3 separate regions of the Homo sapiens genome follow, and all the other regions are linked to region 1. Evidence: fine-mapped expression QTL. A gene starts in region 1. Each other region holds a variant in brackets. All regions are shown on one strand. Distances are from middle to middle.

Evidence for each region. PIP is the estimated chance that this variant, and not a neighbour inherited with it, causes the effect.
Region 2: its variant is the best candidate, but not a certain one, in a credible set for the expression of SHPK in blood mononuclear cells (TOPMed, PIP 0.61).
Region 3: its variant is fine-mapped to the expression of SHPK in whole blood (INTERVAL, PIP 0.96). The same link has a PIP of 0.9 or more in vagina.

What each region holds. Positions count from the first base shown.
Region 1 is chr17:3,628,229-3,638,908 of GRCh38, reverse strand. SHPK (sedoheptulokinase) reads left to right here and starts at 2,659. Exons shown (of 7, transcript NM_013276.4): 1 at 2,659-2,857; 2 at 8,563-8,704. The coding sequence starts at 2,690. It overlaps CTNS (cystinosin, lysosomal cystine transporter), which reads right to left and starts at 2,149. Exons shown (of 12, transcript NM_004937.3): 1 at 2,078-2,149; 2 at 1,593-1,802. LOC105371493 (a long non-coding RNA gene) reads left to right here. Exons shown (of 6, transcript XR_007065579.1): 6 at 1-412. RefSeq lists silencers at 1,784-1,873, 2,884-2,943 and enhancers at 2,154-2,403, 4,242-5,107.
Region 2 is chr17:3,591,566-3,601,875 of GRCh38, reverse strand. TRPV1 (transient receptor potential cation channel subfamily V member 1) reads left to right here. Exons shown (of 17, transcript NM_080704.4): 3 at 9,493-9,809. The coding sequence starts at 9,526. Among named protein-coding and RNA genes, the nearest start is that of TRPV1, 13 kb to the left of the region's middle. RefSeq lists an enhancer at 7,066-7,566. The variant C/T (reference allele first, on the strand shown) is at 2,789.
Region 3 is chr17:3,602,892-3,608,265 of GRCh38, reverse strand. The region is part of intron 2 of TRPV1 (transient receptor potential cation channel subfamily V member 1); the gene reads left to right. It overlaps SHPK (sedoheptulokinase), which reads left to right. Exons shown (of 7, transcript NM_013276.4): 7 at 1-26. Among named protein-coding and RNA genes, the nearest start is that of TRPV1, 3.8 kb to the left of the region's middle. The variant C/G (reference allele first, on the strand shown) is at 2,402.

The sequences.
Region 1 (10,680 bases):
TACTCTCTGGCCTCCTCTGGGGGCCTTGCTCTTGGCGCTGGATCCCTGTGCTCTGTCCCCTGACCTTGGAGGAATTGCCCTCCTGCGTGTATGGAATGACCACAGGCCTCCCTCTCACTCTTGCTGCCCTCCGCTCCTCACACCTGCCCTGTGGCCTCAAGTTCAGGATTCAGTTTGTTGCCCAGGACAGAGTCTGGTTTTTCTCCAGAAATTAGATGCAGAATCAGGCCTAACCAGCTTCTCAAACTCACAGACTTGGTCAGCAAACATTCCCAAGCCTCAAAGGCTGAGACCCCTGGAGGAACGATGCCAGCAGAGACAAAACGACATTGAGAGGTAAGTCAATTAAAATGTTAAAAAACATCAGATTAGGCTGAGCGCAGTGGCTCGTGTGTGTAATTCCAGCACTTTGGGAGGCCGAGGCAGTTGGATCACTTGAAGTCAGGAGTTCGAGACCAGCCTGGCCAACATGGTGAATCCCCGTCTCTACTAAAAATACAAAAATTAGCCAGGCGTGGTGGCATGTGCCTGTAGTCCCAGCTACTCAGGAGGCTGAGGCAGGAGAATCGCTTGAACCCGGGAGGTGGAGGTTGCAGTGAGCCGAGATTGCACCATTGCACTCCAGCCTGAGTGATAAGAGTGAAACTCCGTCTCAAATTAAAAAAAAAAAACAAAAAAAAAACCAGATTGATAATTACATACAACTAGTGGCTTGTGAAAGCTACAAGATAGAAATGAAGTATCTCCTGACAATGGGCTCTGTCTGGCGTGCCCTTCCTATGTAAGTTCTAACTATTGTCCAGGCCTCATTCAGATGTCACATGTTTCAAGAAGGCTCCTCACCCATTCAGTCCCTTCCCAGGAGCAACCTGGGGCTAGGGGTCTAGTGTGGCAGCTCCTGTCTGCCAGGTATGAGTTGGTCCTGTCCTCTGTTCTACGACCTGGAACTCCCTGGGTCTCCTGCTTTTGGAGAGGGTACACAAATAGTGGCAAGGGCTGTGTGCACTGGAGACAGGCTTGACCTATTTATTACTTATGCGACCTTGTGGTGCCAAACAAGGAGGTGGTAACTACCTCACAGGACTTAAATGAGGAGATGTAAAGCACGCATTGTCAAGTGGGACTAAAATTGGCTGGGGGTAGGCTGGGCGCGGTGGCTCACGCCTGTCATCCCAGCACTTTGGGAGGCCGAGGTGAGCGCATCACCTGAGGTCAGGAGTTCGAGACCAGCCTGGCCAACATGGTGAATCCCCATCTCTACTAAAAATACAAAAATTAGCTGGGCATGGTGGCTCAGGCCTGTAGTCCCAGCTACTCGGAAGGCTGAGGTAGGAGAATCGCTTGAACCCCGGAGGCGGAGGTTGCAGTGAGCCGAGATCGCGCCACTGCACTCCAGCCTGGGTGACAGAGGCTGCAGACTCCATCTCAAAAAAAAAAAAAAAATTGGCTTGGGGTGGTAGTGAAGAAATCTAGCTATTACAATGGTTTGTGGCCACAGAAACAAATACACAGCGTACTAGTGGTATTAAATTTTATGGGAAGGGGGTAGGTAGGAATAACGAGGTTGAGAAACAAGGATATAAAGTGGTTACCTCTGTTGCTTAGGGCGCCTAGCGAGCTCTCACAAAACACAGTAATCCTCAATGTTACTGGAAGAGGCAGAGCTCAGGAGTCCTCCCTTCGCCCAGTGTGAAAACCCGGAGGGGAGGATGGGGTCTCGTGCTGCTCAGTCCCCCGGAGCCCCGCACTCCGCACGTCAACCGGCGCTCTCGCAAAGGTTCTCTCAGCGTCTCCAAAGCAATCTGCAAATTCCCCAACCGAGACCCAGGCGGCAACTGAGCAGAAGGTAAGGGGCTGGGAACGGCACCCACCCCGGCAGCCCGCTGCCCCTGCCTCGGCTGACCACCGCTCGGGCCCTTCCACCCGGGGGTTGTCCCGTGTCGCGAGGCCAGCACTGGTGGCGGGGAAAGGAGCCCGCCGCGGCTGAGGGCGCTGGACCCCCGGCAGGCTGCCCCGCTGACCTGCTGTGCCTCAAGGGGTCCGCCTGGGAAACAGGGGAGGCCGCGTCCGCTCTCACCTGAGCGCCCCCAGGCTCGAGGAACCGCCCTCACGGGACGCATGAGCCTCGCCAGGTGCCGGTCAGGAATGCACCGCGTTCCCCTGCCCGGCTAGACTTTGGGAGAGGCGGGTCCGCTGTCACCTGACCTCCGCCACCTGACTCGTGGGGCCGGATCTCGGCGAGATGAGCTCTGGGAGTTGTAGTTTCCGCGCGTCTTAGACGGACAGAGCGCAGCTGGGTCGGGCCGGGGCGCAGAGATCGGGGCTCCGGCGTGAGGGAAGATGAGGTCCGCTGCCAGGGACACAGAGACTCTTGGAGCCGCCAGCGCCTCCCGGCTCCTTTCGTGAGCGAAGCTCAGACCGCCCTCCATTGGGCGGAAATCAGAGCCCGTGGGGCGGGGCCCCCTTTAGGTCCCGCCTTCCGCCGCCTCTCCGCCTATAGCCGGGGCCCGCCGAGAGGTTGCGTGGAAGCTCGCCTTCCCCGGCCAGTGGGAAGACGAGAAGCCTCCATGTTGGGTGTGGCTGAAAGATTGGCAGGCGACTCCCCGCCCCTGCCCCGCCCCCCTGGGCGAAGAGCGCGGACTTGTGGGGCCGCTGGCTGCAGACTGGAGCTGCGCGGGTCAGGGAGATAATGGCTGCGCGGCCGATCACCCTCGGCATTGACCTGGGCACCACATCTGTGAAGGCAGCTCTGCTGAGGGCCGCGCCCGACGACCCATCCGGGTTCGCAGTGCTGGCGAGCTGTGCCCGTGCTGCGCGGGCAGAGGCGGCGGTCGAGAGCGCGGTGGCCGGGCCCCAGGTGAGTTGGACCCCCGGGGCCGCGCCGCCTCCAGGAGCCTCCTGACCACCCTTTTCCACCCCAGGAGGCCTCCCTGACAGCCCTTCCCGCAATGAAGTCTCTATTCCAGCTTGTCCCCAGCTTCTCCAGGGGCCCGTCTGCCTGCAGCAGCTGTGCTCATGATCCCTTAGGTCTGGTCCCAGAATCCTTCCCACCTGCTGGGACCGATTCCCCCCCGCCCCCTCCCCGACTCTCTGGCTTCTTCTGGGGGCCTTGCGCTTGGCGCTGGATCCCTGTGCTCTCTGTCCCCTGACCTTGGAGGAACTGATCTCTTGTGTGTATGGAATGACCACAGGCCTCCCTTTCACTCTTGCTGCTCTCCGCTCCTCACACCTGCCCTGTGACCTCAAGTTCAGGATTCAGTTTGTTGCCCAGGGCAGAGTCTGGGTTTTCCTCCGGAAATCAGATGTCAAATCAGGCCTAACTGGCTCCTGGCTCATTCCACAGAAGCAGAATGCGGACCAAGAAACCTTTGGTCAGCCGGGCGCGGTGGCTCACGCCTGTAATCCCAGCGCTTTGGGAGGCCGAGGCGGGCGGATCACGAGGTCAGGAGATCGAGACCATCCTGGCTAACACGGTGAAACCCCGTCTGTACTAAAAATACAAAAAATTAGCGGGGCGTGGTGGCGGGCGCCTGTAGTCCCAGCTACTCGGGAGGCTGAGGCAGGAGAATGGCGCGAACCCGGGAGGCGGAGCTTGCAGTGAGTCGAGATCGCTCCGTTGCACTCCAGCCTGGGTGACAGAGCGAGACTCCTTCCCTTCCTTCCCTTCCTTCCTTCCTTCCTTCCTTCCTTCCTTCCTTCCTTCCTTCCTTCCTTCATTCTTTCCTTTCTTTCTCTTTCTTACCAAGTCTCGCTCTGTTGCCCAGGCTGGAGTACAGTGGCGTGATCTGGGCTCACTGCAACCTCCGCCAACTGGATTCAAGTGATTCTCCTGCTTCAGCCTCCCGAGTAGCTGGGACTACAGGTGTGAGCCACCGCGCCCGGCTACTTTTTGTATTTTTAGTAGAGACAGGGTTTCGCCATGTTCGCCAGACTGGTCTTGAACTCCTGACCTCAAGTGATCTGCCCACTTCAGCCTCCCAAAGTGCTAGGATTACAGTTGTGAGTCACTGCGCCTGGCCCAGCTTTGTTTTTCACAAGCTCTTGCCACATACATGGACACGGTTGTTTAGGGTTCAGAGCCCATTTGGCTCAGAAGCATTTCTGAGGATAGGGATTTCAGGAGCACTTTGTATCTACATAGAAGCTTTCAAGATTAGTTTGGTTGGGACATTAGGGCATATTAAAAGGATTCTTACTTAAAGGACTATGAATTGGAGGCAAAGTTGGCTCTGACCCTGGTGGGGTGAGCAGGAGAGCTGGCATTAGGGGAGAGTAGGCTCAGAAAGTGCCAGTTTCTCCTGAAATAGAGCACTTCTTTTTTTTTTTTTTTTTTTTTTGAGACAGGGTCTCGCTCTGTCACCCAGGCTGGAGTGCAGTGGTGCAATCTCTGCTCACTGAAACCTCTGCCTCCCGGGTTCAAGTGATTTTCGTGCCTCAGTTTCCCGAGTAGCTGGGATTACAGGTGTGCGCCACCATGCTTGGAGAATTTTTTTGTATTTTTGGTAGAGATGGGGTTTCACCATGTTGGCAAGGCTGGTCTCAAACTCCTGACCTCAACTGATCTGCCTGCCTCGGTTTCCCAAAGTGCTGGGATTACAGGTGTGAGCCACCGCACCCAGCATGGCCACTTTTTTTTTTTTTTTAATTGATCACTCTTGGGTGTTTCTCGCAGAGGGGGATTTGGCAGGGTCATAGGACAATAGTGGAGGGAAGGACAGCAGATAAACAAGTGAACAAAGGTCTCTGGTTTTCCTAGGCAGAGGACCCTGCGGCCTTCCGCAGTGTTTGTGTCCCTGGGTACTTGAGATTAGGGAGTGGTGATGACTCTTAACGGGCATGCTGCCTTCAAGCATCTGTTTAACAAAGCACATCTTGCACCGCCCTTAATCCATTTAACCCTGAGTGGACACAGCACATGTTTGAGAGAGCACAGGGTTGGGGGTAAGGTCACAGATCAACAGGATCCCAAGGCAGAAGAATTTTTCTTAGTACGGAACAAAATGAAAAGTCTCCCATGTCTACTTCTTTCTACACAGACACAGCAACCATCCGATTTCTCAATCTTTTCCCCACCTTTCCCCCTTTTCTATTCCACAAAACCGCCATTGTCATCATGGCCCATTCTCAATGAGCTGTTGGGTACACTACCCAGACGGGGTGGTGGCCGGGCAGAGGGGCTCCTCACTTCCCAGTAGGGGCGGCAGCACGGCCACTTCTTGAAAACTTTTCTGCCCTCCCTCCCCAGCTTTCAGCAGGCTGTTCTGTGCTTACAGGCTCACCCAGTGTGTCACACCTATTTAATGAAGTGCTTAGCGGAGGCCAGTCATTAACCCCCCCACACCACATATGAATCGTGCTCTGGGACAAACAGCACTGCTGTGAGTTAGTCTATATAGCAGGGTTTCTCAACCTTGGTGCTGCTGACATTTTGGGCTGCATAGTTTTTGTTGTGTGAGGGGTGTCCTGCATGTTGTAGAATGTTTAGCAACATCTCTGGCCCACTAGATGCCAGCCACGCTTGCCCCTCTTCCCCAGATGTGACAACCAAAAATGTCTCCATGTTGCCAAATGTTCCCTAGGTGACAAGACCACCCCGAGTAGGAACCAGTGATCTATAGTCATATCTGTGGCCGGGCGCGGTGGCTCTTGCCTGTAATCCCAGCACTTTGGGAGGCGGAGGTGGGTGGATCACTTGAGGTCAGGAGTTCGAGACCAGCCTGGCCAACATGGTGAAACCCTGTCTCTACTACAAAATAACAAAAATTAGCCGGGCGTGGTGATGCGTGCTTGTAATCCCAGCTACTTGGGAGGCTGAGGCAGGAGAATTGCTTGAACTCGGGAGGCAGAGGTTGCAGTGAGCCCAGATCATACCACTGCACTCCAGCCTGGGCAACAGAGTAAGACTCTGTCTCCAAAAAAAAAAAAAAAAAAAAAAAAGTAATATCTGCTGGCTGTGTTCTTTCCTCAAGTTCATACTTTTCACTCATAAGTATTAGCTATACCAGGGTCAAGCTTGGCAGCTGTGCAGACAATCAGTTTTTGGTATTTGCCCATTTAAAATACAAGGTTTTCGAGGGCAGTTCTGTGACCCTTTCACAGTTTATATTTATTTTTCCTCTCTGGGCATCAGTTTCCTCCGCTGTAAAAAGAGGCCTGAGGAGTAGGATTTAATGAGCTTCTAAGTACTGTGTGCAAGTCTAAAGCGCGAGGATTCGACGTGGATGTAGACCAACTGATATTCTGAGCCAAGGAGTGGGGGCAATGTCTATTCCTGTTACACTGGGGGTCTGTCCAAGAGCTACTCCCCAATCACACCCGCCCCTAAAACTGTTTCTAACTGCTGAACACTGCCTCCTTGTCTTTACCACATCCAGCCTGCTTACTTCTTCCCGTGTCTCCCCCCACACAACTCACGCACCCACTCACCCTGGGACCATTTGAAACAGCAGCTCTGTCCTGGGATGACACACCACCCCATGGCCATGTGGAGTCTTACTGTGTTGCTGAGGCTGGTCTCAGGCTGGTCTCAAAGTTCTGGGATCAAGTGATCTCCTGCTTCAACCTTCCCAGTGGCTGCGATTATAGGCGTGAGCCGCTGCGCCCAGCTGGGAGGACTCTTTAAACTAGCTCTGTCCAGTAGAAATATGACCTGCAGGCCAGGCGCGGTGGCTCACGCCTGTAATGCCAGCACTTTGGGAGGCCGAGGCGGGCGAATCACGAGGTCAAGAGATCGAGACCATCCTGGCCAACATGGTGAAACCCCGTCTCTACTAAAAATACAAAAATTAGCCGGGTGTGGTGGCGCGCACCTATAGTCCCAGGTACTTGGGAGGCTGAGGCAGGAGACTCGCATGAACCTGGGAGGCAGACGATGCAGTGAGCTGAGATCACACCACTGCACTCCAACCTGGTGACAGTGAGATTCCGTCTCAAAAAAAAAGAAATGTAACCTACAAATGGAGCCAGGCGTGGCCTTTTCAATTTTCTAGCAGCCCTATTAAAATAAACAAGTGAAATTAATTTTAATTGCATATTTTATTTAACCCAGTGTATCCAGCACATTATCAGTTTGATGTGTGATAATCAAGGCTGGGTGCGGTGGCTCACACCTGTAATCCCAGCACTTTGGGAGGCCGAGGTGGGTGAATCCCTGAGGCCAGGAGTTTGAGACCAGCCTGGCCAACGTGGCGAAACCCCGTCTCTACTAAAAATACAAAAATTAGCCCGGCGTGGTGGTGTGAGCCTGTAATCCCAGCTACTCCGGAGGCTAAGGCAGGAGAATCACTTGAACCTGGGAGGCAGAGGTTGCAGTGAGCCAAGATTATGCCACTGCACTCTAGCCTGAGCAATAGAGAGAGACTCTATCGCTAAAAAAAAAAAAAAAAAAAAAAAAAAAGCATTAAATTAGATAGTGTATATTTTTTGTCATACTAAATTGTAGTCCGGTGCATGTTTTACATTTACATGTCAATTCAGACTAGCCACAAGTGGCTAACGATTTCAGTATTGGACAGTGAGGGTCTAAACAAATGTCTATTCCCAGAACCCTTCTTCCTGCCCCCCACCCCCATGTCCCCACCCTGCTCTTCTTTCCTCCCTCTGGTGATCCTGCATAGCCACCTGGCTCCTCTGTGCCTCTTGTCTTCCACTTCCTCTTGGCTGTGGCCTCTCTTGCATGTAGAATCCTTGTTGAGCTCTGGGGCTGCTTCCTAGGAAAAGGCTGTGCTTCCCCTGTACTCCCTGCCCCATCCTACCCCTCCTCTCCTCCCTTCTTTCTCTTCTTTGTTCCTGCTTGTTAGGAGCCAAGAGCTGCCCCTGACCAAGGCCGCAGGCTGACAGGGGCAAGCGAGAGGTTTTCCGAGGAGGGGAAGACAGCACTCCCGGGAGGGAAGCAAGACGTCTGAGAACTCAGCCTTCAGATGCCTTTCTAAGACCTTAGCTTTGCTAGTTCCTCAAAGAGCTGACATTTATTGAGAGCTGAGCCACAATTCTCTTCCCCTTCTTCTCTTCTGAACTTTCTGTGGATTCCTCTAGTTGGTTTTTTTGAGATGGAGTCTCACTTTGTCACCCAGGCTGGAGTGCCGTGGCGTGATCTCGGCTCACCGCAACCTCCGCCTCCCAGATTCAACCGATTCTCCTGCCTCAGCCTCCTGAGTAGCTGGGATTACAGGTGCATGCCACCATACCCGGCTAATTTTTTGTATTTTTAGTAGAGACGGGGTTTCATCATGTTGTTTGGCTAGGCTGGTCTCGAACTCCTGACCTCAGGTGATCCACCCACCTTGGCCTCCCAAAGTGCTGGGATTATAGGCTTGAGCCACCAGTGCCTGGCCTTATTTCTTCTATTTATAGCACAGAGAATGCTGTTCTCAGCTGAGTCTGACCCCAGTGGAGGGCAGGCCCAGGCAGTTTGCTGCAACTCACCTGCAGCAGTGCCTCAACTGTGAAGTTAGGGAGTGGATGCTGCCCACTGCATTCCTCCTCCAGGACATCCCGGGAGGCCTGCGCCCCTCCCCCTGCCTGTGTGTCTGCCCCTGCCCATGTGTTCTCTTTTGCTTCCAGGGGCGGGAGCAGGATGTGAGTAGAATCCTCCAAGCCCTACACGAGTGCCTTGCTGCCCTTCCCCGACCCCAGCTCCGGAGCGTCGTGGGCATCGGGGTGTCGGGCCAGATGCATGGAGTCGTGTTTTGGAAAACAGGCCAAGGTATGCTGGGCTCGGGGATGCTCTCAGGCTGGTAGCAGTCACTTCCAGAACTAGAGCAGTGCTGTGCGGGGCTTTCTGTGAAGGGTCGGGTTATCCTGCAGTGGGAATAGGGTCTTGTTTCTTGGAGTGGACGAATACGTGCTGCCTCCTGCGTGGGTGAGCATTCTGTACCAATGTTAGGTGAACAAAGGAACTGCCCACTCCCACATCATCAGCACGTTATCCACGAACAGGCAGAGGGAAGAGAGTGTTTTCTCGGATTCTCCTGAAGGATTCAGCAGAGTGCATTTTCCATAGCTTTCTCTTTACCATGTCAGTATCTCAGAACATTAGTGCAGACAACCGAGAGACTGGCTATAGCTGCAGGAGATGCCAGGACATGGAGGGCATGCTTTTGAATTGGGGCACATTTGTCGTTGTTTACATATTTGTGATTTTGAAAATTCCAGGGCATATCTTTTTTTTTTTTTTTTTTTAAGGTGGAGTTTCACTCTTGTTACCCAGGCTGGAGTGCAGTGGCGCAAACTCAGCTCACTGCAACCTCTGCCTCCCGAGTTCAAGTGGTCTTCCTGCCTCAGCCTCCAGAGTAGCTGGGACTACAGGTGCCTGCCACCACGCCCAGCTAATTTTTGTATTTTTAGTAGAGACGGGGTTTCACCATGTTGGCCAGGCTGGTCTCGAACTCCTGACCTCAAATGATCCACCGGCAGCCTCCCAAAGTGCTGGGATTACAGGTGTGAGCCACCATGCCCGGCCGGCATATCCTTTTTATGGGTTCAGTTGCTAAGCATTTCTAGTTGGTTGTCTTATGAAGATCTGCCACAGTGCGGAGGTGGGTAACCTGTTCTATTTGGCCTTGAGGAGGAGAACCTAAGACAGTAAAACCACAATGAGCACTTCACATGCCTGGTGCCTGGCTGAGGACATCAGTTGCATGATCTCGTCGGATATTCCCAACAACCTGGTGACATAGATTACACTGTTGTCCCCATTGTGTGGATGAGAGGTTGAGGTTCAGAGAGGTTAGAATAATATGCTCAGGGTCATATTTCAGCAGGTGAACCCCACTTTTGAATCCAAGTCTGTCCGAGGAGCTTTTAAAGGCCTGGCAGGGTTGTTTTTGATGGAGGACCAGAGCTGCAAGGGGACACAGTGGCTCAGTGAGAGACTTCCCAGCAGAATGCCCAAGGATGAGGCTCCTGCAGGAAGTTGGGAGCTCCCTGTTATGGAAGGCATTAAAAAAACTTTTTAAGGCCGGGCATGGTGGCTCACACCTGTAAATCCCAACACTTTGGGAGGCCGAGGCAGGAGGAGTATTGCTTGAGGCCAGGAGTTCAAGACTAGCCTGGGCAACATAGTGGGACCCCATCTCTACAAAAGATGCAAAAATAAGTTGGGTGTGGTGCGACATGTTTATAGTCCCAGCTACTTGGGAGGCTGAGGTGAGAGGATCACTGGAGTCCTGGAGGTTGAGGCTGCAGTGAGCTGTGATTGCTCCACTGCACTCCAGCATGGGCTACAGAGCAAGACCCCGTCTCAGAAAGCAACGACAACAACAAATCAAACTTTAAAAGAAATTATATTGGCCAGGCACAATGGCTCACGCCTGTAATCCCAGCACTTTGGGAGGCTGAGGCGGGCAGATCACGAGGTCAGGAATTAGAGACCAGCCTGGCCAACATGGTGAAACCCCATCTCTACTAAAAATACAAAAATTAGCTGGGTGTGGTGGTGTGTGCCTATAATCCCAGCTACTTGGGAGGCTAAGGCAGGAAAATCACTTGAACCCGGGAGGCAGAGGTTGCAGTGAGCCGAGATCGCGCCACTGCACTCCAACCTGGGCGACAGAACAAGACTTCGTCTCAAAAAAAAAAAAAAGAAATTATGAAAGATTTAATTTAGACAAACAAAAATAGGGAGAACAGTACTGTGAACAGCATATACCCATCACTCAGCTTCAACAAAATCAACATTTT
Region 2 (10,310 bases), 37 kb after region 1:
ATGTCTGTAATCCCAGCATATTGGGAGACTGAGGTGGGGGATCACGTGAACTCAGGAGTTTGAGACCAGTCTGGCAAGATGGCGAGACTCTGTTGCTACCAAAAAAAAAAAAAAATCCGAGCGTGGTGGTGCACACCTGTAGTCCCAGTTACTTGGGAGGGTGAGGCAGGAGGATCCTTTGAGTCCAGGAGGTGGAGGCTGCAGTGAGCTATGATTGTGAGTCCCTTGCATTGGGTGACAATGCAAGATACCACCTCTTTAAAAAAAAAAGGTGAGAAATGAGCTCTTTATGCTGGGGCCTTTGGGAGAAGGTGGGATTTGAGCATCCCTAGGGCTCACCTCGCACTTGAAGATGGGTTAAGTGGGGTACTGGGATGGAGGAGGGTGGGGGAAAGGGTGGAGTCAGCACGTTTAGTGTGGCTGGGAAGGGGTGTGCCCAGGTGACAGAAGGTGGGTTTCGGTGGGAGAGGAGACTGGGTCTGTGGGCTCAGGGTGCGGGGGTGGGGCGTTGCTCAGCAGTGGGGACCCCTGAGAGGCAAGGGGGCCTGATCAGGATGAGCTTCCAGGACTGTTGATCTGGAGGTGAGGGGTTGTGGGAGGTTGGACCAGGGAAAGGAGGCACTTCTGGTCATTCAGGTGAGAAGAAGGGGCTCCCAGGTAGAGGAGGGATGGACGGAAGCCACAGAAACAGCCCAGGGAGGGCCGAGAAGGAGAGGCTGGAGGTCACAAAGGGCACCGGGTTTGGTGGCCAGAAGGAAGTTGATGCCTTTCCAGGCAGGGACTGCTGCAGGGAGCGGGAGGGGAGTGAATGTGGAGGGAACAGGAGCCCATTGTGGGTTATGCTGGGGGGAGGGGGCTTGTGGGCTTCACCTGCAGATTCAGGGAGGCAGGGATGGAGCTCAGGGAAGAGGGCTGGGTGGACTCTGGATGAAGCAGCCGCTGACTTGGACACATCAGAGAGGTCCTTGGGAGGGGCCAGGCGAAGGTCTCCAAGGACAGTGGTGGAGCTGGAGAAGATAAGGCTGCGGACGGGGTCCTTGGACCCCCAGGTGTGGGGAACGGCAAGAAGAGGAGAGCAGCCAGGGAGTCCCGGCAGGAGTGGCCAGGGCAGGAGGAGGGCCGGGACTTCCCCTGCAGGCCTCTGAGCAGGCACTGTGCCCTGTAGACTCCGGTGATACTGTTAGCACCAAGGGCTCTGTTAACAAAGAGGACAGGACACATTTAGTGATGTGTGCTGTGTTCACTGGAAATGGTGCTGTCTTTTGTTTTGTTTCGTTTTGTTTTTTTTAAATGGAGTCTCGCTCTGTAGCCCGGGCTGGAGTACAGTGGTGTGATCTCAGCTCACTGCAACCTCTGCCTCCCAGGTTCAAGTGATTCTCGTGCCTCAGCCTCCAGAGTAGCTGGGACTACAGGCGTGCACCACCACGCCCAGCTAATTTTTTGTATTTTTAGTAGAGACAAGGTTCCACTATGTTGGCTAGGCTGGTCTTGAACTCCTGACCTCAGACAGTCCGCCCACTTCTGCCTCCCAAAGTGCTAGGATTACAGGCTTGAGCCACCGTGCCCGGCTCCGTGCTGTCTTTATTGGAGGCAGAAATCACTTTGGAGGCTAAGGCAATGGTTCTGGAGAAGAAGCATGACCATCCCCTTTCCCAGCCATTGCTCTATCCCACATTGTTAGAAGGAAATGATCCCAGAGGACTAGAAAGTTGAGAGGTCACCACTGCTGAGTCTTTTATATATGACAGATCCCACTTCTGGGTCTATATGTGCCCAAAAGAATGGAAAGCAGGGACAGGACCAGATATTTGCACGCCTATGTTCATAGCAGCACTAGTCACTATGGCCAAAGGTGGAAGCAAGCCAAGTGTTCATCAGCTGGTGAATGGATGAGCAAAATGTGGTCCATCCATCCCACGCCCCAGTGGAATATTACTCAGCCTTAAAAAGGAAGGAGGGCTGGGTGTGATGGCTCATGCCTGTAATCCCAACACTTTGGGAGGCTGAGGCAGGTGAATCACAAGGTCAGGAGATCGAGACCCGCCTGGCCAACATGGTGAAACCCCATTTCTACTAAAAATTAGTTGGGTGTGGTGGCATGCACCCGTAATCCCAACTACTCGGGAGGCTGAGGCAGAAGAATTGATTGAACCAGGGAGGTGGAGGTTGCAGTGAGCTGAGATCACGCCATTGCACTGTAGCCTGGGGGACAGAGTGAGACTTCATCTCGAAAAAAAAAAAAAGAAAAGAAAAAAAGGAAATTCTCTTACAGGCTACTACATGGATGAACCTTGAGGAAATTATGCTAAGTGAAAGAAGCCAGTCACAAAAAGCAAAGAGACAAATACTGTATGATTCCTGACCAGAGGACTCCTAGAATAGTTAAATTCATAAAGACAGGAAGTTGAATGGTGGTCGTTAGGGGGTTGGGGTCGGGAAGGGGAGTTAGTGTTTAATGGGTGCAGGGTTTCAGTTTGGGATGATGAAAAAGTTCTGTGCATGGATGATGCTGATGGTTGTACAACAGTGTGAATGCACTGAGTGCCACTGAACTGTACTGTTAAACATGGTTAATACGGTAAATTTTGTTATATATATTTTGCCACAACTTATTATAATATATAAATATATATTTTGAGACAGAGTTTCGCTCTTGTTGCCGAGGCTGGAGTGCAATGGTGTGATCTTGGTTCACTGCAACCTCCACCTCCCGGGTTCAAGTGATTCTCCTGCCTCAGTCTCCCGAATAGCTGGGACTACAGGTGCCCACAACCACGCCCAGCTAATT[C/T]TGTATTTTTAGTAGAGATGGGGTTTCACCATGTTGGTCAGGCCTGGTCTCAAACTCCTGACCTCAGGTGATCCACCTGCCTCGGCCTCCCAAAGTGCTGGGGTTACAGGCATGAGCCACCGCGCCCGGCCTTTTGCCACAATTTATAAACAAGAATGAATTCTAACGTTCATATTAATTGAAGCTAACATGACACACATAGCATAAACAGGTGTCTAAGCGGCCAGGCGCGGTGGCTCACGCCTATGATCCCAGCACTTTGGGAGGCCGAGGCAGGTGGATCACTTGAGGTCAGGAGTTTGAGACCAGGCCTGACCAACATGGTGAAACCCAGCCTCTACTGAAAACACAAAAATTAGCCAGGCGTGGTGGCACGTGCCTGTAATCCCAGCTACTTGGGAGGCTAAGGCCGGAGAATTGCTTGAACCTGGGAGGCAGAGGTTGCAGTGAGCCGAGATTGCGCCATTGCATTCCAGCCTGGGAGACAGAGCGAGACACCATCTAAAAAAAAAAAAAAAAAAAAAGTGACTAAGCGAGGGGTATGGTGGGGTGTGGCGTGGTGGGATGGGCCTGGCTTTTATGCCTAGACCAACGTGCGGCCTGGGCAATTATCTAATTATCGGTTGTCTAATTGCCCAGCGTCACACATTTCTCACCTGTAAAATGGGTATGACAGTCTCTGCCCTCCCACTGCCCGGGGTTGCTGTACGGCCTGCGAGAGCGGGTTTGGGAAAGCTCTTTGTCAACTGCTGTGCGGAATTGATGGGGTGGCCACACTTCAATGCCTTGACTCAGGGGTCAGAGCTTTCAAGCGACCCCAGGCAGGGTTACGAGGGCCTCCCTGGCAGTGGCTGCTTATTCCAGGCTGGACCTGCCCTACGGCTTGTTGGCGTCCCGCAGGCAGCTGCTAGGATGGTTTTTGCAGGGCATTTGGGCCGCAGCCTGGATGCATACCTAGACCTCACTGTTTTTCTCAGCCAGGGTCTGGGAGAGAATGAAACCTATTGTTCTAGTTATCTGCTGTATGTGACTCTCTCCTGTGCGTTTCTCTCTTGTGGGTCTTCTCTCCTGTGCATTTAGGGTGGTATGAAGTGAAGAGAGAAAATAGACACTTGTGGCCGGGCGCAGTGGCTCACGCCTGGAATCCCAGCACTTTGGGAGGCCGAGGCAGGTGGATGACGAGGTCAGGAGTTCAAGACCGGCCTGGCCAACATGGCGAAACCCTGACTCTACTAAAAATACAACAATTAGCTGGGCGCAATGGCAGGTGCCTGCAATTGCAGCTATTCGGGAGGCTGAGGCAGGAGAATCGCTTAAACCTGGGAGGTGGAGGTTGCAGTGAGCTGAGATCGCGCCATTGCACTCCAGCCTGGACGACAGAGTAAGACTCTGTCTCAAAAAAAAAAAAAAAAAAAGGAAATGACACTGATAGTTATCTGTGTTTTGTGGTTCCCTGAGGAACCCCCAGTTGAGAAGAAAGGCTGGGACCTGGCTGACCCAGAAGACCCCCTCGACGCCAACCCCTACTCCAGGTTTGGGGACCCAGGAACGAGAGGCCTAAGAGAGTTAGGGACTAGTTCAAGGTTGCTCGGACTCTCAAAACAAGTCCCTAATGCCAGGCCAGTACTGTGTGGCGGGCAGCACGACCCTCCATTCCCTCTTTATTTTGAAAACGGAACAGTTACAGGACGCTAGTTTTGACGTCGCTGGTTGTGAATGTCATTTGTGGAGCCGTTTCCCAGACCTCCGGGGGCAGGAGCCACAGGTTTGAGAGGCCGAGCAGCGCCCTCCTTTCCTGAGAGCTGAGGTTGCAGCTCTGGCTGGCTCTGGTAAGTGCTCTGCAGCCCTGGCATGGCTGGAGGAGGGGCAGCAGCTAAGTGGTTTCTGAAAAAGGGCAAAAATGATGGGAAAAGCTTTGGGATCCTCTGGGAATCAGAGCCGCAGCAAAGGCAGCTGCTTGCATCGCTGGAAGCGTTTTTTCCTTGAGTGCCGAAGGGCGTCCACAGCGACTCCTGCTAGTGCAGGGCAGCTGCTGCCAGGGCCGGGCCCGGGACCCCACGGAGGCGGGGAGACCACTCTTCTCCCACACGAGCCCAGCTCTCCCTTCGAGTAGCAACCGCCTTCAAGCTCACAAGCACCCGTGGGCCTGGGGTGTGCCTGCGTCTAGCTGGTGAGTCCCTTTCTTTGTCTGATGGCCAATGCAGACATTAGCTTTTAAGATGGCATAGTGAGTGGCCAAAAGCCGGGCCCTGTCACTTCCCAGCTGTGCGACTGTGGGCAGGTCCACTCACCTCTCTGTGCCCCAGTTACCTTATCTGAAAACGGGGGGTAGTAAGAGTGGCTGCCTCAAAGGTGGTCGTGAGGCTGAAGCGAACTTGTGGTGCCCTCAGCCTGGCTCCTTGGAAGCACCTGGGAGGTGAGAGTGGAGGTTGTTGTTACTGGGGTTTGTTCTTGTTGCTCCTGCATCAGCCGTCCTCGGGGGAGGAGGCTGCAGCTGCTGCTGAGATTGCTGGTGTGTGGCCGGAGGTTTTCAGCGTGTCGCCCTCTCTGTGGAGTGGACGAGCGCAGGGCTGGGAAGCAGGCACACTGGGTCCTTGTGCTGCTGTCCTATCTCTTTGTTCTTCACCCCTGGGTTGGGAAGCCCGCAGCCTACTGCCTCCCTTTGACAGAAGGGACTACTGAGAATAATCTGGCTGGGTCCTGGGCCAGCGTTCTCCCAGCTTCCAGAAAGTCCCCAGTGGCGAGCGGGAGGTGCTCCCAAGAACTTGGATGGATGGATGGATGGATGGATGCTTTGGGCAGAGAGAGGAGCAGGGGAGCCACACCCCATGTTGTCTCACTTGCATTGGGGAGAGAAGGGATCCTTCCCCCAGAGGGTAGGCAGTATCTGTTCTGGCTTTGGAGTTGAGAAAGACTCAGATCATACCACGTCTCTGTGGGCAGAATCGATTCTTTTAGGATTGTCCTTTAGTCCAGATTGATGAGTTTGTGAGTCTTGTGTAAACCAGAATCACCATCTCCATCACACAGCCAACACTCGTTTGCCTAAATCACGGTAGAAGTTCCCCTGATCACTGTAGAATGTTTTGCGGTGACAGGTGCATCACCACGGGCTTAGGTGCAGGGTACACTCCAGGCCTGGCAGTGGAGGGCTGTCCTGACCCTGTTCCCCGGCCCAGCCCAGGGCACATGACCCCTCAGTTCCTGTCCCACCCCGTTCCCTGGAAGAAGCTTGGTTTCCAGTAGGGAATCAGGTGCAGAGTGTGCAGTATAGATTCAGCGTTTGTCGACTGACTGAATGATAGCACAATCCCGGCTGCTTCCTGTTGGCTGGGTTTGGTTGGACTGGGACCCGTCAGAGGAAAAGGCAACGCCGCTGACAAAGAACATTGCCGAAAGGTTCATGGGAGGCTCCGGCTAACAGGTGCTCTCTTGCTGGGCTGCCTAACGAGCAGCCCCTATTCTTATTCTTAGCTTATTCTTGGAGACCATAGACATCCCTGGGACAGCCAGGCATGGGTATGACCTGGGTCTTATTCACACTGCATTTTGGGGTTCCTGAGCTGCTTGTTTGAGCGAGAGGTGCTTCAGGTTCAGGTCTTATGCCTAGCCCCTTGGGTGAGAGGGCCTATTCTGATTGGCCCCCAGGCCCTGCTGTGGAGTCTGGGTCTGAGTTGAACTGCTGAGAAAGAGCCCCAGACCTCCAGCATCGTGGTGGAGCACTGGAGATGCTCTGGAGCCAGCCTGCCTGGGGTCAAGTCCGGGTTCCATCTCTGACTGTGTGACCTCGGGGACGTGCCATAACTGCTCTGTGCCTCGGTCTCCTCATCGGTGAAGTATTTCCCTCTTAGGGATGTTGTGGGAATGAAGTGGGTGAAGGAATGCGAGTCCTGAGAACCGTGTCTGCTTTGTGCACGTGCTCAGACGCATCAACGATTCTGCTTCTCATTCGCTTCTGGTGCCTTTTAAGTGCTGCCAGGGCTGTCCGCACTGTGAACGGTCCTTGACGGGGTGTTATCTTCAGAAAGGGAAGACTAGCACCCGGCCCCCCAGGCTTCCAAAGCATCATCCATGCAACCATGTTGGCTTTCAATTCCTTGGAGTTAAGGCTGACGGCCATCTGGTTCTAACCCGGCCTCCTGTCTTCCTGTCCCACTGACTTCCCGTTCTTCAGCTGCTCTAGGCTTCCCTGTCTGTCTCCAGACCCTAGCCCACCTCTGTTCCCTTCCCAGGCTCAGCTCATCCATCACCAACTGCCATGGACCCCTCTTCAGCACCCTGCCCCCTCCTGCAGTCCCTCCGCCCAGCCAGTACCTGGTTTCTGTCTCAGCGGGGAGCTGACTCCTCTCTGTGCCCCCAGCGCAGGGCTGGACTCTGAGGAGGAGGACTCAGTAGATAGGTATTGAGTGATGAGATGAGGGAATCGGCTTTCTGTGGCCGGGAACACTCCTGCTGCAGGGGGTCCACCTGATGGGTGAGTCAGAGAAAGACTCAGGCCTGTTGAAAGTGGATCAACAGGCAGGCAGGGAGATGGCCAGTAGCCAGCCGTCCGTCCTGTTCACAGCCTGCGGAGTGGTGAGGCTGCCTCTGTGTTTTCATGGATCTGAGATTCAGAACGTAGCTGGTTTACAGCCATGGCCCAGTTGTGTGCTCTGGAGTTTCACTGCCTGAATTTTAACTTGAAAATGTAGGACTTGGGAGTCTCTCTGAGCCATTCTGGCTTGGGAGATTGCCTGATTATATATTTCAAAAAAAAAAAAAAAGAAAATGCAGGACTTGAGAAGCCTCTCATTTCTTCTGCGGCTGTTTTCCGGAATGTAGCCACTGCTGGAACAGTAATCTCCCTAACTTCCTATGGAAATGGCAATTAGAAGGGTCTGATTGCTCTTATTTCCCCATGTGTGCAGCTGCTGCTGCTGCTGCTGCTGCTGCTTCTTTTTTTTTTTTTTTTTTTTTTTTTGAGACAGAGTTTCACTCTGTTGCCCAGGCTGGAGTGCAGTGGCACAGTCTCAGCTCACTGTAACCTCTACATCCTGGGTTCAAGCGATTCTCCTGCCTCAGCCTCCCGAGTAGCTGGGATTACAGGCGCCCGACACCACGCCCGGCTAATTTTTGTATTTTTTTTAGTAGAGATGGGATTTCACCATGTTGGCCAGGCTGGTCTCGAACTCCTGACCTCAGGTGATCCACCTGCCTTGGCCTCCCAAAGTGCTGGGATTACAGGCGTGAGCCACGCGCCCAGGCCAGTACAGCTTCTTCATAAGGAGATGGACCAGGAAAGGTCCCTGCCCAGGAGGAGGTCACAGGGTGCGGGAGAGATAAATCAGTGACAGATAGCAATTGCTGGACCACATGGTAGGCTGTGTGGGACAGGCGGTCAGTGGGCTGGGCCACTGTGTGGAGGACAGCGGGGAGCATGAGCAGGGCAGGGATCTGGGGGCTTCATGGAGGAGGCGGCATCAGTGCTGGATCCTGAGGGGAAGTAGCATCTGAGTGGTGATAGGACTTGTGCAAGGGTAGACAGAGGAAAAAGCCCTTAGGTGGAGACCCGATGGGAATAGAGGCTATGGGAGGGATGTATGGGCCACCCCTGGGTGCCAGGGAGTGGGGATGCCCAGCCAGAGGGAGGGGAAGCATGGGGATGGGGCAGGATGGGAGTGGAAAATAGCATCAGCTCATGTGTCCAACTACACATGCTGCTGCCAGCGGCCAGCTGATCTCTAGGTGTTTAGGCCTAGAAGACCAACCAGCTCCAAATCACTTAAAGCCTAAACGTTCCCTGTCTCTACTAAAAATACAAACATTAGCCACGCATGGTGGCGGGCGCCTGTAATCCCAGCTACTTGGGAGGCTGAGGGAGGAGAATCGCTTGAACCTGGGAGGTGGAGGTTGCAGTGAGCAGAGATTGCCCCATTGCACTCTAGTCTGGGCGACAGAGTGAGACACACAGACACACACACACACACACACACACACACACACACACACACACACACACACACACACGCCTAAACATTCAAGGCCAGGATGCTTGACAGATGTTGATTCATAAAAATGACAAAAAGCACAAAATCCAAAATCTCGTATAAGCTCAGTGGCTGTGGCAGCGAGGTTGAAGAGCAAAGGCAGGCCGGGCACCTGGCTGATGATGTGTGGACCCGTTGCACAGCAGGGCCCCGCAGTGCGGTGTGGGTGTGGGTGGGCCAGTCTCTGCCGCTCACCCTATTCCAGGGACACAGTCTGCTTGGCTCTTCTGGACTGAGCCATCCTCATCACCGAGATCCTCCCTGAATTCAGCCCACGACAGCCACCCCGGCCGTTTTCCTTGTTCTGTGTGGGGAGGGAGGCAGCGCGGTGGTTATCAACCTCACCCTGCAGAGGAGGCACCTGAGGCCCAGAGACGAGGAGGGATGGGTCTAACCCAGAACCACAGATGGCTCTGAGCCGGGGGCCTGTCCACCCTCCCAGGCCGACGTCAGTGGCCGCAGGACTGCCTGGGCCCTGCTAGGCCTGCTCACCTCTGAGGCCTCTGGGGTGAGAGGTTCAGTCCTGGAAACACTTCAGTTCTAGGGGGCTGGGGGCAGCAGCAAGTTGGAGTTTTGGGGTACCCTGCTTCACAGGGCCCTTGGCAAGGAGGGCAGGTGGGGTCTAAGGACAAGCAGTCCTTACTTTGGGAGTCAACCCCGGCGTGGTGGCTGCTGCAGGTTGCACACTGGGCCACAGAGGATCCAGCAAGGATGAAGAAATGGAGCAGCACAGACTTGGGGGCAGCTGCGGACCCACTCCAAAAGGACACCTGCCCAGACCCCCTGGATGGAGACCCTAACTCCAGGCCACCTCCAGCCAAGCCCCAGCTCTCCACGGCCAAGAGCCGCACCCGGCTCTTTGGGAAGGGTGACTCGGAGGAGGCTTTCCCGGTGGATTGCCCTCACGAGGAAGGTGAGCTGGACTCCTGCCCGACCATCACAGTCAGCCCTGTTATCACCATCCAGAGGCCAGGAGACGGCCCCACCGGTGCCAGGTAAGTCCGCGTCTGGAGCCCCCCTCCCTGCTGGGAGCCCAGCTGGCCATGGAGATGCCACAGGGTGGTCTGGCTTCTGGGCTAAATGTCACAAAGCCAGGGGGCTGGAGAGCCTTAGGGGTGGTCTGGTCCAGCGTCCTTCCTCATGTGACCTCGTGGGATGTGCAGTCACGGGGGCTGGTGTCTGTGCTGGGTCTAGGTGTCCACGCCCGCAATGCCTACCAGCCACAGACACTTGGACTTGAAGTCTAAAAGCTCAAGGGCAGGAGGCTTTTGGAGAGCACAGCACAGCTCCAGTGAGCTGCAAGGCAGGGCAGGGAGGGCCACAGGCTGGCTGACTTCTGGGGAGTGTGAGGCCACCTTTTCCCTTAGAGGGGCTGTCTACACCCCTGCCTCCACCTCCCTCCGTCCCCACCAGGCTCCTGCCTCCCGAGCTCCCGAGCAGGCAGAGAAGCCAGTGGTCTGGGAGTAGGAGGGTGACTTTCTAGATGGTGTCTATAG
Region 3 (5,374 bases), 28 kb after region 1:
TTCTAAAGAAAAAGAAATTCGTGCTAGTTTTTTTTGCCTTTTTTTTTTTTTTTTTGAGACATAGTCTCACTGTGTCACCCAGGCTGGAGTACAGTGGTGCAATCTTGGCTCACTGCAACCTCTGCCTCCCGGGTTCAAGCGATTCTCTTGCCTCACCCTTCTGAGTAGCTGAGATTACAGGCTCCTGCCACCACGCCTGGCTAATTTAGTTTTAGTAGAGATGGAGTTTCATCATGTTGGCCAGGCTGGTCTCGAACTCCTGACCTCAGGTGATCCACTTACCTTGGCCTCCCAAAGTACTAGGATTGCAGGCGGGAGCCACTGACCCCAGCCTCATGCCAGTTTTGCTGTCACACCTCAAACTGCAAAAGTATGGTCACAGTGTGTGATAACTTTTATTAGAGTGTATTGTTAAAACCGTTCTACTTTGGCTGGGTGTGGGGGCTCACACCTGTAATCCCAGCACTTTGGGAGGCCGAGGCGGGTGGATCACCTGACATCAGGAGTTTGAAACCAACCTGGCCAACGTGGTGAAAACTCGTCTCTACTAGAAATACAAAAGTTAGCTGGGCATGATGGCACGCGCCTGTAATCCCAGCTACTTAGGAGGCTGAGGCAGGAGAATCGCTTGAGCTCTGGAAGCAGAGGTTGCAGTGAGCTGAGATCGCACCACTGCACTCTAGCCTGGGTGACAGAGCGAGACTCTGCCTCAAAAAAAAAAAAAAAATTGTTCTACTTTATTGTTGTTGTTAATCTCTTACTGTGCCTAATTTGTAAATTAAATTATATTACAGATATGTATGTGTAGAAAAAACATGGCATATGCAGGATCCAATACTAGCCTTGGTTTCAGGCATCTATGCAGGGTCTTGGGACATATCTCCTGTGGATGACAGGGGGCTACTGTATTTTTTTTTTCTTTTAGGCAGAGTCTCCCTCTGTCGCCCAGGCTGGAGTGCAGTGGTGCGATCTCAGCCCACTGCAACCTCCACCTCCCGGGTTCAAGCAATTCTTGTACCTCAGCCTCCCGAGTAGCTGAGATTACAGGCATGTGCTACCACACCTGGCTAATTTTTGTATTTTTAGTAGAGATGGGGTTTCACCATGTTGGCCTGGTCTTGAACTCCTGACCTCAGGTGATCCACCTGCCTCAGCCTCCCAAAGTGCTGGGATTACAGGCGTTAGCCACCATGCCTGGCCTGCTACTGTAATTTTTCTTTCAGCCAAATGAGTTTAAGATGCTGTCATTGCAGCCCTGAGGAAGGCTGCATGAGAGAGAAGAGTAGGCTGAGTTTACCAGCGTCCTTTGTCTTTTGGGAGGAGCCAGGCCGTCTAATCTCAGAGTGGCAGCCTGTCTCGCCTGCCCAGCATGCAGTGGATGGGGTCTGCAAATGTAAGGTTAGGAACGGGATGGACATCCAGCAAGCTCAGGCAGCCCAGCCTTGTGCCTGGTGTGGCCCCGGAACTCTCTGTCCTCTTTCCAGACTATGCATTCACTCTGCCTCTGAGGACTGAGCCTTGGAGGGTCCCAGTTTGTCAATAAACAGGGCTGCTCCTGCTGCTTCCGTTGCCTGAGGCCTGGAGCCTCCGTCTAGGTGGGGGATGAGTGCAGCTGCCTGAAGTCACAACCACGTGCACAACCCACCCTCCTTCCCAGGAGGTGCCAGTAAGTGGTTTGAGGCCGGCATGCTTCTGAAGAAGTGGTGAGCGGGGCTCCTTTGCTGGCCGTCAGTATCCCGATGCTATGAGCCCACGGCAGGGCTGCACCTTCCCCCCGATCCGCTTCGGCCAGTGGGACGTGCACAGGGAATGCCTGTCACTCCTGGGCAGAGGTCTTTAGGAGCCAGTGAGCTACTTGCCACACACCCTTCCCTTTGCCACAAGTGACTGGCAGTGCCCCAGAGAGTGGTAGCTCTGTCAGCCTGGGTCCCTGAGTGAGGACAGTGTGGTGTAGAGTTCTCACCAACCAGCGAGGGACGTGCAGTGGGACAGAGAAGTAAGCGCCCTTTGGTGCAGTGCCTCACACCTGTAAACCCAGCACTTCGGGAGGCCGAGGAGGGCGGATCACTTGAGGTCAGGAGTTCCGAGACCGGCCTGGCCAACATGGTGAAACCCCGTCTCTACTAAAAATACAAAAAAATTAGCCGGGCATGGTGGTCGGCACCTGTAATCTCAGCTACTTGGGAGGCTGAGGCAGGAGAATCGCTTGAGCCTGGAAGGCGGAGGTTGCAGTGAGCTGAGATCATGCCACTGTACTCCAGTCTGGGAGACAGAGCGAGATTCTGTCTTTAAAATAAATAAATAAATAAATAAATAATAAACCTTTGATGTTTGAAGCCACTGAGATTTGGGGGTTGTCACCACAGCAGAGCAGCCTCAGTAGCCTGCACCTGGGACGTCT[C/G]CCATGCACCCAGCACAGACCCAGGCAGCCACATTTTCTGAGCGCCCAGTAGTAGCTGGGTGTTCTCTCAGAGACTGCCCCCCGTTGAATTTCCATCACGAGGCAATGGAAAAATACCAACAGTTGGTTACATAAACAGACCCTAGGAAAAGAAAAAGACACAGACAATGACAGCACCTCTATGCCCAGAGGGAGGAGAAATTCATTCTTTACACAAGTCACATTGAGCTAAACCTCCAAGGGTTTCCATCCATGGTTACTAACGACAGTTAACATTTCTTTTTGAGTACCTGCTGTGTACTGGGATCTGATCTAAACTCTACTTGTTTGAATTCATTGAATCTTTTTTTTTTTTTAAATGGAGTCTCACTCTGTTACCCAGGCTGGAGTGCAGTGGTGCGATCTCAGCTTACTACAACCTCAGCCTCCCGGGTTCCAGCAATTCTCATGCCTCAGCCTCGCGAGTAGCTGGGATTACAGGTGTACACCACCTCACCTGGCTAATTTTTTGTACTTTTAGTAGAGACGGGGTTTTGCCATGTTGCCTAGGCTGGTCTTGAACTTCTGGCCTCAAGTGATCCACCCACCTCGGCCTCGGAAAGTGCTGGGATTATAGGCATGAGGCACCATGCCAGGCCTCATTTAATCTAGAAGGTGGGTAGTGTTATCCCCATTTCACACATGGAGAGATAGATAAACAAAAAAGTTAAGTAACTTACCTGAGATCACAGTGCTAGGATTCAAACCCCAGAGCGAACCCACTCTCTTTAGCAACTAGGCAGTGGGGTCAGGCTAGGTAAATGTGTTTACATTAAAGTGATCGTCATGTCCAGAGTGTGACAAATTGGTGTAACTTGGTCATAGTGTGAATGGAAGGATGTTTATAGGAGTTGTGGCTGGACGTGTTGGGCAGACTGTGAAGGGTCTTGCATGCCCGCCTGAGGGGATTGGACTGTCTCCTGTAGACAGTGGGGTTTGGAGGACTGGGGCCTTGGGAGTGTAGCTGACAGTGTGGACGCTGGATTGGAGGAAGGGTGTTCTGGGAGACAGGAGGCTGTAAAACAGCCTGGAGAGATGGTGGGCCAGACCCAGTTCAGGGCAGGGTAGGGGACTCCAGCCCACCAGCCGCTGCTTTTCCTCCCGCCACACACTGCCTGCCTCTGGGCCTTGACCCCGTCCACATCATGTGTATGTGGCTTTCATGTTCTCTACTTTTCTCTTCTTCTTCTTTTTTTCTTTTTCTTTTTCTTTTTTTTTTTTTGAGACTTTTTGAGAGTCTTCCTCTGTTGCCCAGGCTAGAGTGCAGTGGTGCGATCTTGGCTCACTGCAACCTCCGCCTCCTGGGTTTAAGCAGTTCTCCTGCCTCAGCCTCCTGAGTAGCTGGGATTACAGGTGCCTGCCACCACACCCAGCTAATTTTTGTATTTTTAATAGAGACGGGGTTTCACCATGTTGGCCAGGCTGGTCTCAAACTCCTGACCTCAGGTGATCCGCCCGCCTCAGCCTCCCAAAGTGCTGGGATTACAGGCATGAGCCACCACGCCTGGCCTATTTTTCTCTTCTTCTGAAGTGGACTGAAAGCTCTTTGAGAGCAGGTGCCTAGGTGTCCTCAGCCCTGTCCTCCTGCACCTTAGCTCATGCCAAGGCCCATGTTTGGAATGTCCTCCTTGTGGGGCAGAATCCTTCTCCTTGTCCAAGGCCCAGCCCAAATGGCATCTGCCCTCTGCAAAGGGCCTCCCTGGTGACACATACGCCATCTGATTACAACTGCAGGGGAGGCCAAGACCCGGCTCAACATTTGTTGTTGGCATGGTCTGTTGGCCCCAGAGCCCCTGGCCTGTGCCTGTTACAGGGTGCCCTGCCCTGCCTAGTGTCAAGAGAGAGCCTGTGCACATCTTCCTTTCCTGTCCATCGTGGGCTTCTTGAGCGCAGAGACCACCCTGTTGACCCTACTGCTCTGCTAGGGGATTTGTATAGCACATGGTGGGCCCTCAGGAGAGAGGGTCTCACCTGGCCTCTCCCCTCAGCCACAGGTAGATGGACAGGCCAAGTCTTTGAAAGTGGGAGAGTCCTGATACAGAGATGCTCACTTGCGTGACTCATCAAACATTAAGCAAACCTTGTTTTTTTCATTAAAAAACAATTAGTCATAACTTCGAGCTAATGGCCGGATACAGCTCAGCAGTCAGCAGATGTGGTCCTCAGGCTGAAATAATGAAGATGAGAGCAGTCATCTCTCATGCCTGCCTAGAGCTTTACCAGGCTCAGAGCCCATTCACACCCACTATCCTGACTAATCCCAGAAAAGCCTCGTAAAGCAGGTAGGGCAGGTGTTCTTGGCTGTAATTTTGTGGAGGAAGAAGTAGACCCAGAGGTTCAGCTACCAGCCGGAGTCCATACAGCCGGCATCTAGCACACGCGGGCCTCTTCCATCCAAGGTCCAGGTTCTACCCACCTGCTGACCCTCCATTGGCCCTCGTCCCTCTTGTTCCCAGTCCCTGCCCTGGAACACAGCTCTGCAGAGCGGGGCTCCAGCGTTCTGTGCTGACTGGGTGTCTGACCCCTCCCCAGCTCAGACTTCAAGCTCTAGCCACTTCTGGAGGGTGCTGACCGGCTCGCAGACCGCTGCCCTCCACGGAAGCTGGTCTTTTAGACTCTTGGGCACCCGGTGACAGGAACACAGAGACGAAATGCAGGAAGGAGGGTATTTTTCTTTTTTTTTTTAATTTTAATTTTAATTTTTTGAGATGGAGTTTTGCTCTTGTTGCCCAGGCTGGAGTGCAATGGCGTGATCTCAGCTCATGCAACCTCCACCTCCTGGGTTCAAGTGATTCTCCTGCCTCAGCCTCCCGAGTAGCTGGGATTACAGGCATGCACCACCACGCCTGGCTAATTTTGTATTTTTAGTAGAGACGGGGTTTCTCCATGTTGGCCAGGCTGGTCTCGAACTCCCGACCTCAGGCGATCCACCCG